Linked DNA regions of Homo sapiens. The protein of the gene in region 2 purifies or fractionates together with the protein of the main gene of each other region. This does not show direct contact. Each region holds a gene or a part of one and is shown on either strand. Other genes may lie near its edges.

What was found. Proteins that work in one complex are often made in the same cells at the same time.
Region 1: the proteins of SLC6A5 (region 2) and GOLGA5 purify together in Homo sapiens (affinity purification with mass spectrometry; 2 studies listed by BioGRID and IntAct, with this or other methods). This does not show direct contact.

The regions. Positions count from the first base shown.
Region 1 is NC_000014.9:92,811,305-92,818,304, reverse strand, and holds part of GOLGA5 (golgin subfamily A member 5), read right to left. Parts: intron 6,755-7,000; coding exon 6,551-6,754; intron 2,055-6,550; coding exon 1,884-2,054; intron 1-1,883. UniProt on the Homo sapiens protein: Involved in maintaining Golgi structure. Stimulates the formation of Golgi stacks and ribbons. Involved in intra-Golgi retrograde transport.
Region 2 is NC_000011.10:20,594,897-20,602,630, reverse strand, and holds the start of SLC6A5 (sodium- and chloride-dependent glycine transporter 2), read right to left. Parts: upstream 3,024-7,734; 5' UTR 2,959-3,023; coding exon 2,956-2,958; intron 1,503-2,955; coding exon 966-1,502; intron 1-965.

The DNA of each region.
Region 1 (7,000 bases), on a different chromosome or scaffold from region 2:
GTGCTCTGTGCAGTATCTGGAACATACGTGCTCAGTAAACAATAGCTATTGTAATTATTTACAATTCTTTCATTTTGTTAGACCTAACACTTATTATACATTGCATAAATTTTGAGAAGGGTAAGAAAATGGGTCAATGTCATTAATGATGCTGATATATTAAATAAAACAAGTATTTTTCATAATCTCACCAAAAAGACATGAACAGATATGAGTAAGTTTAGCATCTACCCAATTTCTAAGTTTGCAGGACTGAATTCTTTGGAATTCAAATTCACAGATTAAAAAAAAAATCCTACTTTAATGAATAACAATAAACCCAGAAATAATAGCAGCTATTATTTAACTGAGGGTCTATTACATGTCAGAAACAATGCTAGGCTCTTCATATATTATCCTTTATTGTCAAGAGAACCTTTGTTTACCTGCATTCTATAGATGAGAAAATTAAAGCTCCGCAAGATGAAGTGCCTTGTGGAAGCAGCATCTGTTAAGTACCAAAGACAGAATCTATCCACGTCTGTCTGCTATTCAAGTCTATGCTCTAGACAAGGTATCCTATTCTCACAACTTTCACGCTTTCTTTTGTAGTTCACAAGTCTCACAATGTGCAGAGTTAATGCATGGATGAACATTCTCTACAAAAAGTTTCTTCCTTTTAAGAAAAGGAAGCTCGTTATGCTGCACTTTATCTTCTCTCACCTTCAGAGACTCCTTCCTACGATATTTATGTCAAAGACCCCGAAGTTTAAGCAAAATAAATGGCCCAACTTTACTTTTAAATATAGTAATTATACATAAACTATAAATTATAAGAATAAGGATAAAACTGTAATTAGAAGATCATCCCTGAGCCCATACTAATATTAGAAAACATCTCAGCTTCACATAGGAGCTCAAATCTGATTTGCTTTTAACCACTAGAATGTAAGATCTATAATTATGAAGACCCTGTTCTAATTCCAAACCTAGGCACATGGCAGGCACTTGGTAACTATTTGTTGAATGAATTGATCTGTTTTTTATCACCATAACTTTATGGTCAACTTATGGATTAGAAACCTGGTCGGGCATGGTGGCTCACGTCTCTAATCTCAGCACTTTGGGAGGCCGAGGTGGGCGGATCACTTGAGGTCAGGAGTTCAAGACCAGCCTGGGCAACATGGTGAAACCCCATCTCTACTAAGAATACAAAAATTAGCCAGGTGTGGTGGCGCACGTCTGTAATCCCAGCTACTCAAGAGGCTGAGGCAGGAGAATCCCTGGAACCTGGCAGGTGGAGTGGAGGTTGCAGTGAGCCGAGATCACGCCACTGCACTCCAGCCTGGGCAACAGACCGAGACTCCATCTCAAAAAAAAGAAGGAAAGAAAGGAAAGAAAGGAAGGAAAGAAAGGAGAGAAAGGAAAGAAAGGAAAGAAAGAAAGAAAGAAACCTACTGCTTTAGCCCAGCACGGGCTGCAACAGCCCTGCAATCCCAGCACTCTGGGAGGCTGAGGAGGGACAATCACTTGAGGCCAGGAGTTTGGGACCAGCTTGGACAACACAGGGATACCCTGTCTCTACAAAATATAAAAATTAGCTGGGCGTGATGGCATGTGCCTGTAGTTCCACCTACTTGGGAGCCTGAGGCGGGAAGACTGCTTGAGCCCAGGAGTTCGAGGCTGCAGTGAGCTATGATCACACCACTCCAGGCTGGGAGACAGAGCAAGATCCTGACTCCAAAAGAAGAGAAGAGGAAGAGGAGGAGGAAGAGAAGAGAAGCGAAGCGAAGCGAAGAGAAGCGAGAAACCTATCGCTTTAGTAATGCTGTTTCCCCACCTCTCAAACTGTTAACACCTGAGGGTAAATGGTGTCTACTAAGCTGAACCACCATGAATCTTACCTGTAATTCGGATCTGAGCTGATGTATCTGGCCCATCAGCTTCTGTATTTCCTCCCTCTGCATCTCTTTCTCATGCCGAAGTTCTTCCAGCTCCATGCTACTGGCAGTGCTGCTATCTAGGCCTTCAAAACCAGAGCCTTCTTTCAAGCTGTTAATCAATTTTTCCTTAGACTATTATAAAAGAAGAAATATGTTTAAGCAAAGCAGAGATTAGTTTGTATATTGAATATCATCTACTATACAGAAAATAACCCACTAAAAAAAATTCCATTATCTCCATCAAAGAAAGTCCACAGATTTTCTTAAATCCCTAAGGATAAAAAACACAACAGAGCCTTGCTGTATAATGTCCTTGGACTTTAGCCCCACAATCATGGTAAAGTTGAAAGCTTGTTATGAATAAGATTTTTTTTTTCCAGCTGGGTGCGGTGGCTCACGCCTGTAATCCCAGCACTTTGGGAGGCTGAGGCGGGCGGATCACGAGGTCAGGAGGTCGAGACCATCCTGGCTAATATGGTGAAACCCCGTCTCTACTAAAAATACAAAAAAAATTAGCCAGGCATGGTGGCAGGTGCCTGTAGTCCCAGCTACTAGGGAGGCTGAGGCAGAAGAATGGCGTGAACCCGGGAGGCGGAGCTTGCAGTGAGCCGAGATCGCGCCACCGCACTCCAGCCTGGGTGACAGAGCCAGACTCCGTCTAAAAAAAAAAAAAAAAAAAAAAAGATTAAAAAAAATTTGTGTTTATTTATTTGAGATACGGTCTTGCTATGTTGCCCAGGCCGGTCTTGAACTCCTGGCCTCCAGGAATTCTCCTGCCTCAGCCTCCCAAAGTGCTGGGATTGCAGGAGTGAGCCATCACACCTGGCCAAACAAGACTTTTCTCACATTTTCTTCTCATAGTTTTTATTTTCCAACACATTCTACCCAACAAGTAAATGGTGCTAAGTGTTCTGCGCAATAAAGATAATGTCTCTCTCTATAGATAGTACCCTCTGCCTTACAAACTAAAAGAGAAGTTACAAGTATCCAGCAGAAGGCAATCAACACAAGTAGAGAAAAGGATATGGTCAGATTACTTGCAGAGTTCTGAGAGGAAAAACCACTTCTGGGTAAGAGGAGACTTTAAGAGAGCATAAATGTTGGCCTTGAAATATGGGTAGACTTTTTTAAAGTGCAGAGAAAAACAGAGAGCAAAGCATAAAAATGCAAAAGCACACAAAGTCTGTAAGAAAATAATGTGAGATGCAGCTCAGATAGTATTTTAGCACCAATTTGGAGGGGCTCCTGATCTCAGGCTAAAATGTTTTAATATTATATGGCAGGCTAAAACAAATTACCAAAAAGTAGAGAGAGGAGTGACATGACTAGAGATGCATTTTAGGAGGCTAACCTGGCAGTGCTATGAAGAAGGTGCTCACAAATGATGGTCCGTGGGCCTGTTTTTGTACAGCCTGCAAGCTAAATTTTTTTTTTACATTTTAAAAGGATCATAAATAATAAAGACAAAGAATATGTGATGGAGACTACAGGTAGCCAACATAGCCTACAATATTTACTATTTGACCCTCTCAATGTTTTCTGACCCCTGAGATAAAAGATGAGTTTGAAGAAGAGATTTGACATGCAAAGACCAGTTTATAAAGTCCTAATTCTAGACTAGGAACAACAAGGACCAGCAGCTTTCACGTTAAATTAAAATATTTTAAAGTCATTCTCCTCCATCAAAAATAATTTTTCCTTTTCTGGGTGGTAGGATTATGGGTTATTTCCATTTCCTTCTTCAAACTTCTTTTGTATTCTTCAAATTTTCTATAATAAACATGATCATTTATAACATTTTAAGATTTTTTTTAATAAAAAACCAGAAACCTCCCAACCTCATTCCCCCATCTAGCTACTGTCCTCATGTCCATGGTCAAGTACCCTGCCTCCATGTCTTCAGCTCCCAGCGCACCCCGGAACTCTCTGTTGAGAGGTCCCCAGGGACCTCCTAGTTGCCAAGTCCAGGAATTTAGCTCGGGACTTGTCACATCAGAGCCGCGTGCTGTGGTTGGTGATCATGCACCACTTGAAACTCTCCCTCTGCTTGGCTTCATTGGATGGCATCAGTCTCCTCCTGGTTCTCTCCAATCTCTGACCACTCACCTTCTCAGTATTTTTCTTTTGCAGGCTATCCTTTTGCCCAATTTGTAAATGCTGATGTTTAAGACTGTGTTTTTAGACCTCAGCCTTTCTCCCCGTTAGGTTACACATCGCTCTTGCCTAAACTTACCTACTCTCCCAACTTACTTCTAATTACCTTTCTAACATTGTCACCTCAATGTTGCATCAATTTTGCATACTTACCATAATTCGTCATACTCTCCTTTAACCCTAACCTGTTCTCTTTCCTGTTTCCCCTTTTATTAACACAAGGAAACATCATTCATACACTTAAACCAAAAACCTGGAGTCATCCTGGATTCCATTTGCCTTTTTCCCCCATCCTTCCAGTTAAATCTCCACATGTCATATATTCTATCTCCCACATATCTCTTAGCTGTCCCCTGCCTGCCATCCTCACTGCCAAAAACTTTGATCAGGTCCTCATTATTTCTTATGATCACCTCTTCACCATCTACATGCCATTGATGCCACCCCTTATCACTTCCATGTTTTCAACAATGTACCGAATACCAGGCACTGTGCTGGGGATACAACGATGAACAAGACAGAGGCCCAAATCTCCCCTAACCTTTTCATCAGGCTGCCACAGTTCTCACACTCAAACCTGACCATGGCTTCTGCCTGCCGTTGAACTTTATGAGTCTTTTGCCTCCCATCTCTGAAGACGTTATGTTCCAGCAGTATGGAACTAGCTGCAGTCCCTTAAATATGCCATGTTCTCTCTGGCCCCCTTGCTCTGGCACAGGTTGTTCTCTCGGAAATCTCTTCCCTATCATGAGTCTTCCTATTCATCTTTCAAGTTTCTCTTTATACCACATCTCCTCAGTCCAGTGATCTTTGACAGCCTCAGGCAAGTTTTAAGGGATTCTTCTCTCAAGCTCCCATTGTACTGCATTAATAACCTTATTACGTCAATTATCTGTTTCTTTCCACTAAGATGAATGTTTTCTTAAAGGAAGAGGACACATCTTTTGAGCTTTGTATCCTCTGTGCCTAGTGAGTAGTTAGGTGCTCAATAAGTAACTTTTCAATGAATTAACAAATTAGGGTGATACAAAAAAGTACTTAGAAAGAAGAGTTTGAGGAGGAGATCAATATGATACTTCATGGAAGTAGCATTAAAAAAAGGTATTCATAGCCATTAGAAGTTTGAGACTAAAGAAAAAAGGTAAAGTCAAAAATGACCCTGAGGTTTCAAGCTTTACTGCCACATGGCAGTAACGTTGACCAGAACAGAAGAATGAGGGAGAAGTTGGTCTGGGAGCTGAACACTCCATGCCTGCACAGTAGGCAGCTGGGCACTGAGGTCAGGAGGTCAGGCTTGGAAACATGCTTGAAGTCATATGCAGGCGGCTATTAGAAGCAGAGGCAGCATACAGCAGTGCAAGGTAAGAAAGGACAATGAAAGAGGGTTCAGGACAGAGCTTAGGAGGACTCTGACTCTTTGGAGATTGGGAAGAGCGCCCAAGAGAGACAGAAACAGCAGTAGAAGAGGACAAAAAGAGAGCCAAGGAGATGTGAATAGCATAGAAGGCAGGAGTTCCAAGGAAGTGGGAGGGTTAACAGAGCCAAATGTTCTACCAAAATACAAGGTATGGAGACTAAGAAAAGGACAGAGAATATTTATTTAGGTCATCAAATATTTTTGAGAAGAAATTTCAGACATGTAGTAGGAAAAGAAGGAGATAAGAGTTAACAAGTTCTACAGAAATGAAGACAGCACGTACACAATTCTGGTAAGCATGACACTGAAAGAAAGGAAGATAGGGAAATAGTGCAAAGTGGTCACAAAGCTAAAAGAGACTGTTTTTCTCTTAGGCAGGAGTCCGAGATCTAGTCTTCATTTTTCCACTAAATAACCATGTGCTCTTGAGTAAGCTGAGCCAGAAGGCAGCAGCAGCAGAGAGGCACACACAGGAAGGAAGGGCATAGATCTATGGAGAAAGGGCTTACACATGAGATGGGAGATGGAATCAATGCACAGGCAGGAAAATGATCCTAGAAAAAAATGAAAGGACATGTTTTCCCTCTGAGGGACAAAGGAAAGAGAATTCAAAAACGACATTAGATGACTGTAGTCTTTCTTAGTAAAGTAGAGGGTAAGATCACCTTAGATCTGAAGGAGGGGAAAAAAAGCTGGGTGAGACAATTCTGAGAACTGGATGAGTCCTAAAGCAGTTGCTGCAAAAATTCAATAGGAGATCAACAAGGAAGAATAAACAGCTGCTCAACAACAAGCATTAATATCATCACAGTGAGTAAGGTGACAGGTTGAAGACCTGAACTAGGCAGTGGCAGAATGAATTTTTTTTTTAAAAGAAGTGGTAGGAACAAGAAACACTGCATCCTTTAATAAAATTTCTAAAGTAGAGTAAGGCACCTAAAGCTAGCCAATCAGACGAACATGAACAAAGCACCTCACACAGTATCTACACAGTCTCAAATTGCCTTTCAGTTAACTTGCACATCTTAACATCCAAAAGTGTACATTTCATGCTTACTTGCAGTATTCTAGTAGCTTTTTGCTTGTAGTCAATTAATTCCTGCTTAGAGGACTCCAAGTTCAACTTATACAGCTTGACTTGCTGCTGCAGTTCATCAACCCTCTTCTTCTCATCTGAGTATTTTCTTTCGGCCAGTGTAATTGCTTCTGCTAAATTCTGACGTTCCATTTCCACTTTATTAAGGCGTGCAGCAAACTCGCTCTGTGACAAATTTTTATATCATAATTAATGATATCATTTAGCTTTGAAACATATTTTACAACCATCCATTCGGATATCTTATGGGATTTATTAGCTCAGCCAAACAACATAGTAGGGATGGGAAAAAATTCTTAATTTGTTAGGAGCTAAAGTATAGGAAATGTAAAGTTGTAACTCCCAAACATGGCAATGCATTAAAATCAACCAGGAAGTTTGTTAAAAATATAGCCATCCAAGGCCTTTCCC
Region 2 (7,734 bases):
AATTTTGGTCCAGGCCCCACTGCTGGATATATGCATAGCCCCTGAGGCCAGGAAAGGAGAGGAAATAGCAGAAAGGCAGGCAGTGAGAAGGGAAGAGCTGAAGTTGATGAAAAAGGACAGAAGAAAGAAGAGATCAGAGAAGGAAGGAGAGAGACGAGAGGGAAATTGAAGAGAACAAAAGCCTATATGAGAGAGTGGGCCACCAGCAAAAGCTGCCTTTATTCATAACCCAAGGATTGGGATTTGCTCTGTGGGTTTTTCACGCCTCTAATTAAGTAGTAAAGGATCAAATGCAAGAGGGGATTAAGATTGGTGGGGCTTGAAGCTTATACAATTGAGGGAGGTTACTTTAGGGAAAAAAATAGAAAATTATGGCAAAAGTAGACACCAGGTTTTGGAAGGACCCAGGCAAAGGACAGGCCCCAAAACTAAAGCTTCAGTAGCCTCAGGTAAACCCACCTCGCATCAAATGAGTTCTCATGTAATAAAGGTAACTGGCAGTGTAAAGGCTACAAAACTTAAACTATTATCCTCCTACCCCTCCATCCCCAGCCACCACCACGTGGCTTTGTTCTGAATTTTAACCCTCTTTTTGTTTAATTAAGAAATTATTTTTGAAAAGAAAAGACAGTCATTGGCAGGAGAGGGAGTCTGTCTGCATAAAAGGGTGGAATCTATCTTCCTCAACTCTTTCGTGGATCTGGACCTGTATTCCCGCTACCGCCAAGGCTGGGAAGGGGCAGGTCGTGGCCCCTCTGGCAGGGTCACTGCAGCCCTCGCGCCCTGAACTGCCGACCCCAGCGCAGTGCGAGCTTCCGAAGCCCCAAAGCCGCCTCCCGCATCCATCACCTGGCACTGCCAACCGGTTTCCCCATCAGCATACGTGCACCCGCCACGGCCCGGCTGGCCTCTCTCGCGCAGCTGGAGAGCAGGACACTGTGCGGGCCGTAATGCAACCTGCTTACCTGGGTGGCAACGGTGGCCACGCTGCCCGGGAGCACGGACGTGATTCCATCCGTGGCCAGCACCACGGTGCTCTGGCTCATGTTCACCCAGCCCACAACAGGGGTATTGTTCCGCTCCAGGGTGCCCTTGCCCACACTCACGTTCGCATCCCCCTCCGGGCCTCGCAGAAAAGGGATCTTACAGTGCAGCGCGTTGCCGGGCCCGGAGCTCCCGGGAGGGGGCGAGGCCTGCGCGCCTTGCGCCTCTCTCAAGTCCCGCAGAGCTGCAGAGGCCGCCTGCGCCCGCGGGCTACTGAGTTTGCAAGACCCCACTCCTGGCCGCTCAGCCTCGCAGGCTCGCGCGTCCGCTGACTGGAAAGTTTGGGCGCCGGTGGAAGCGGACCTGGGCACACGTGGCGGCGGCGGGGCGGCAGCCGCGGGAAGCTCCTGCTCCGGGCTCGTCCTGGGAGCGCATGGGCCATCCGGGTGGCCCTGCGCCGCCGCCGCCTCCGGGCTGTTGGCTGGCAGTTTATTCATTTCCTTGGGAGCACTGCAATCCTGCAAACACAATGTCAAGTTCGTGCAAAACAAAGTCACAACAGCTTTTAAAATACCTGTATCTAGATATGGAGACGTTCGCAACTCAGGTCCAGACACAATATCTGGGGAAGCAAATTGGAATCTGAACTTTTTTTAAAAGAAAGGCTGCAATCAGTATTTCTCAATTTGCCCGTTTCATCAATAACCAGATGACAAAAAGAAGCTAATATTCCCTCCCTAGTGGAGGATGAACTAAGAAAAGAGGTAGAAATGTAATTTTGTAAGGGTAAAGGGGGAATGGAAATAGCCCTGGAGTCATGAGCTCCCCTCCCTCTTTGGATTCCACATCACAGCTGTGGGTGCCCGCATCCCCATCACCACTGTAGAAAGATTCTTTAATTTTCCGCCCCATTTCCTTTGTCATTCAACAATGCACACTGCCTTTTTCCCCCATAGACAAGCTGTGGCCACAAAGCTGATGCCCTGGCACCTGCGAGCGCTTGAGGCCAAATTGGTTGAGTCCCAGCGCTCCACAACCCACCTCCTCCCGCCAGGTAGCAAAGACAAGGTTAAGAATCACGATCAAAATAACCACAAAAAAACCTACAACGATAATAAACTAAATTTAAGACACAGAGTAGTAACTAGATTTGTTATCTTACACAACTCGTATTCACTTCCAGATTCCCAGACATGGAAAAGAATATGCAAAGCTTTTTGTTCTTTTGTTTAGGTCTTCTTCTTCTTCTTCTTCTTCTTCTTCTTCTTCTTCTTCTTCTTCTTCTTCTTCTTCTTCTTCTTCTTCTTCTTCCTCTTCTTCTTTTTTGCGTAACTATTCACAGGAGTCTAATATCCTTCACAACTCTAAGCTTGCTTGAGTACCAAAACTCATGACTAATTTTTATTCGCTTTTTCCCAATTCACTTTCAAATGAAAAGAACTGCCAGCGGTGGTTTTTCTATCCACTTTCTCCCCTCGTGTTATCTTTCACGGCTTCCTAAACATTAGCACCAATAATTATTATTACACTGTAAGAATAATCCTATTATCTTCGCCTCCACCGCACTCCTCTCGTCTAACCCCCTTTCACAAACACGCAGAATAGAACTCCTCGATTTGCACAAATCTAGGTACCTCGGCTTCAGCCAGCATTTGTCTCAGTAGCCTCTAGGACCCAGAGCAACTCGCCTCTGTACCGGCATCTGGCTTTTCAGCACCGAGGACAGTGCCCGGGATCGGGTCTTTAGGAGCCACAGCCAACCTCTCAGCTCTACAGCCTAGGAAACCTCTTTGCGACCTCAGGTGACGCTCACAAGTACAAATACCTAGGGCTGCGAGAATTGTTCTCCTCGTCGCCCCCTTTCCCCCCACCCAATGCACAGACATCTCCAAAAGAAATAGCCAAAACGAATCTGCTTTCCCTGTCCCCTCAGCCCCCTTTCCTCTTGAAAGAACAAAAGCAAACACTCACCATGTCTGACACAGGCAACAGACTGAACTGGTGGAGGGTGAAACCCGCTATTGACAAGACTGGGTTTGGCTCAGGCAGGAGAGGCGCTTTCTATATCTCCTTGGGAAAGGCCGGGTTTGCGTCAGTGCAAAGCAAGGTGCCCTTGGTTTGACATTTTCTTGATAATACAAGTTTGATAAATCATTACCCCCTTGGATTCAAGTTTTAAAGGGACAACAGCCTAGAGTATGCTGGCCAGTTGTCACTCCAGCGGGAGGGGGCTGCGTGTTTGGCGTGACTCATGTGGTCTGATTACTAAACCGAAACCGGCAGGAGGGGAAGACAGAAGTTTGCCTCCTCCTAATTAAGGGAAACATGGGAGGGACACGTCCCACTGCACCCAAGGCAAGGCGCAGCCGCCAACAGAGTGGATCGGGCTGTAGAGGAGGAAGGAGGGGGTTAAATCACTGTCTATTCTTTCCCTTTCACTAGATTCCATTGCTGTCCCCCCTTATCTTCAGGGATTCCGAAAATATTACTCCGAAAGAGGTTGAGGGTCTGCGCATAGCCCCACAGCTCTGCGATGACTGAAGCAGGCATGGGTCCTGCATTTATCAAGGTGTACCTACCTAGCATGTATGTGGACTTCAGATTCTCACATCCCTACCCTTCCAGACAGTCAGTCTTGGAGGAATCCTGGGGTTTTTGCTTAAAAATTGTGATCTGGTATTTCCGTTCCTATTTCTGTTATCACAATCAAGAGAAAATTCTGAGTATAACTGACCTTTTTCATTGTATTTTTAAGCTTTTCTGAAGACGTTTTAGAGAAAGAAAAACGAAGTTTTTCCAACACAGACCTAGTTCTTAGGTCACTTTCAAAGTCAAGGGAAACCCATTCTTTCTTTACAGTCCTTTCAATAAAATCCTACAAGAGCCAGGCCTGATTTGGCAGCGCGGGACCTTAGAGACCGTCCAAATCGGGATGCCCAGCAATGCGGGGGAGGGGGAATGAGAGCTGGCAATCTGCAAAGCCATGCCAGGATGTTCAACCGTACTGTGGCGGGGATGGGAGTGGGGGTGGCCATGGCGATAAAAAGATGGACTTTCTTGTTGTGTGTACAATGCAATAGCTATAATCAGAAGAGGAAAAAACGCCTTTACAAAGAAGGTGTAGTTTGGAGACTAGAAGGGGATTATCAGCAAAATGCTTCCCTTCTCTCCTTCCTTGCCGGTCTAGCTCGGGGAACCCCTGGCCTCGGGGATGAGGAGCCACAGACAGCACGTTTTCCCTTCCCTACTGCCAACAGCCCAGCCCACTGCCTCGGGGTGCGCGCCGTCGCCAGCGGCTGGGCCGTCCCACGCGGCGGGAGGACAATGCCGCGGCGGCCGCGGCCGCAGGCGTAGGCTGCAGTGGCAGATTGCGGCGGGCGCCGGGGGCACTAAGGGGCACCCTCCTGCTCCTCTGGAGAGCCCGAGAGTGTTTGGATGCCTCCGCTGGTTGGCTTTCCCGCCTAGCCCCTCTAAAGGGCAGCTGGCTGGGGACACACGGTCTGCATTGCCTTTGGTGGGGGCAGGAGGAGGAGATCTTTCTTTTGAGACGCCTTGAGGATTTCAGGTCGCTTTTTATTGCAGTTTTGAGCTAACGTCTATTGAGATCTCAATACTCAACCATTGTGCAAGGGATATCCATGAATTATCTCGGTTAGATTTAGCAATGGCCTTTCAGAAACTATACCAATTGCAAAGCTGAGGAAATTGGGGCTCAGAAAGTCGCTTTTGAACCCTGGAGAAGATCCCAACCACCTCCCGCCGGGCTGTCGCTAGGGTCAGTCGCTCTCTCCCCGGGGCCCGCTCGTAGGGAGAGGTCGGGAACGAGGGTTAAGAGGGTAGGGTGGGCTGTGGTGGACTCTGGCTGGAGGAGGGTCGTCTGAGTGGGTGGGACTGAGAATTCCGCAGGGGTGCCTGCTCAAGTTCCGGCTGGCGCTGAGAAGCACCCCGCAGGCTCTTGGCATCTTGGGGGACGCCAAGGGGACCTACGAGTGTTTCTGCCTAAACAGTCCCCAGTTTCCGAGAGGGCTCAAGACGAATGCGAGAACTGTAGAAGGCAGGCCTGGCAGGCAGGCTCGGGCTCAGAGAGCGATCGGCCGGAGCGGTACCACGAGGCGGGCCCAAAGATCGGTGTAGGCCTCCCTCTGCGGTTCCCCGGCCGACTTCCCCGAGGGACAGTCACGACTTTGGAAGGTTCTGGCCAGTTTCCCAATTTGCATTTGAGCAGCCCCCGCAAAGGGCCAGGTGCGAATGGAGAGTCTACGCGGCGCCCGGACGTTCCAGGGCGCACAGACTTGGCTGCCCCGGGAGGAAGGGAGAACTGCGCAGAGTGGGCAGAATCCTGCCGGCCTTCTCACTTCCCCCAGCTGCGGCCCTGGGCCTGAGTGACGCCCAGCGCCCCCGCTCAGCCCCCAGGCCTGATATTTCGCCCGCTGGCCCTCCCCGGCCCAGTGAGCACTTGGGTTCCGGCGTGGAGACTGCCGCGCGTCAGGCTCTGCAGAGGCGGGTGACGCGCAGGAACGGCTGCGGGGTTTGGCTGAGGCGCTATTCGGGCTCCCCGCCTGCCCCCACTTTCAGCCGCAAGATTCTAGAAGGGAGGGGCTACGTGGAGAATGGAGGGAGGGTCTGGAACGGAGAGGCCTAAGAGGGTTCGCTATGAGGCCAACGCTGGGACGGAGGGGCGGGCATCAGCAGGGCTTGAAGGTTGGGCTTCAGGGGCGGGAGAGAGCATGCGGAGGCAGGAAGCCAGGCCCTGGGGCAGCAGGTCGTGCGTATGGGTGTGTGTCAGCGCCTACGAAGCGCAGAGGATGGAACCGCAGTATTAAAAAACAAAAACAAAAAAAAAGAAGAAGAAGAAGAAGAAGACCAGCCGCACGTCCTCTAGACGCGGGCCTCCGCCCCCGCCCTCCGCGGACGCCTGTTTATAGTGATAATCAGGCCCAGCGCGCCGCAGCCAAGGAGGCCGTAAATCCGCATCCATCACCGCGCAGCCATTCGGTCTGAATTAGCCAGTCACTACGGCCTTAATTACTTTGTCAAAGATGAAAAATAGTAATTGATTTTGTCCTCGATCACTTTGTTCCCTCCTCTCCTGCCTTGCAGATAAGCAAATAAATATTTTTGAAAACTCGTGTCCACTCGGTTGTATGGGGGTAGCCTTCTGAAAAACAGGCCATCCGGTGACAGTCCTGACGCCAGTGTTACTGCCAAGACACGAAACGCCAGCTGCAACCCAGACAGGAGAGGGCCCAGAGGGCGGCCTACCGCATTCAAGTCGCTGCCCTCCTTTGCACTAAGGAAGGAGAGAGGAGGGAAAGATACCGGTGTTTTACAAGCTATTGCTCTGGCGTTAGCGGGGCACTGTGGCACCAGCCTCCTCTGGTCCTCAGGGCAGCATGCAAGAAAGAGCTGCCAGTGCGACTGACAGGCGAAGGAACGTGTCCAGGGTCAGAGGGCAGAGCCTAGCTTTGAGTCCCTGTCTGTGTTGGCTCCTCTCCATCCACCACATGAGGGATAGAGTATGAGCGCCTATGTCTATGTTTATGTGATTTTAACATGGGAGTCGTTAACACCTACAACTTCCATAGATGATGGATGTGAGGGCTCAGTGTGGGTTTCAGGTGACATGGCCGATAGTCAAGAAGCCATGCCGTATTTTTGTCCCACTTGTCTACTACTGCCCAGCTCCATTGCAGTGTTGTTCTGTGCTAAGAATGTGGGCTCTGCAGACACACTGCACCACTTCCTAGCTCTGTGACCTTGGGGGAAATTCCCCATCAGTAAAATGAGCATAATAAAAATTAACCTACCTCGGCCGGCGCAGTGGCTCACGCCTGTAATCCTAGCACTTTGGGAGGCCAAGACAGGCGGATCATGAGATCAGGAGATCGAGACCATCCTGGCTAACATGGTGAAACCCCGTCTCTACTAAAAATACAAAAAATTAGCTGAATATGGTGGCACGCACCTGTAGTCCCAGCTACTTAGGAGGCTGAGGCAGGAGAACAGCTTGAACCTGGGAGGCGGAGGTTGCAGTGAGCCAAGATGGCGCCATTGCACTCCAGCCTGGGAGACAGCGAGACTCCGTCTCAAAAAAAAAAAAATTAACCTAACCTCAAGGGTGGCCTGAGGATTAAACGAAAGAACGCATGCGAAGTGCCTAGATTGAGATTGGCTACCCGGCATACTTTCAATAAGCTATTGTTAACAATATTATTCAGTCTAAAGGAAACATATGTTTGAAGCCTCTCAAAATTAGCAAATAAGACAAATCCCTCTCCCTGGGTCGGAAGGTTTAATATGGGTAGACTTATGCAGAATAGAAAACCTTACAAAATACGTAATGATTGTGCAACATTTTCCCTCCTCATCCAGTGTTTGGTCGCCCAATAATCAAGTATTTACCTTTACTAAATGAAAATTAGGAGCATCCAGGAAAAGTGCTCAAATACAGAAGCTGCTATGAGTTTTTCCTGAGGCACTTTTTGTTTATATGAAGGTAAATTTCAGTATAAAGAAAGGACAGAAGCTTGGAGCTTCATAATCAGCCTCACTGTTCAGTTCTCATCTGAACCCAGGGGTGTCAGGGAAACACAAGTTAATCAAAGCAAGCATCCCTCATCATAGCATTTCAGAAGAGCTCATACTTGGAAATCAATGGTTCAGCTAAATAATCAGTCTGTGCAAAATGCAGGTCCAAAATTCCATGACTCAGACAGGCAGAACGCTTGTTCCTGAGTCAGCAGTAATGAT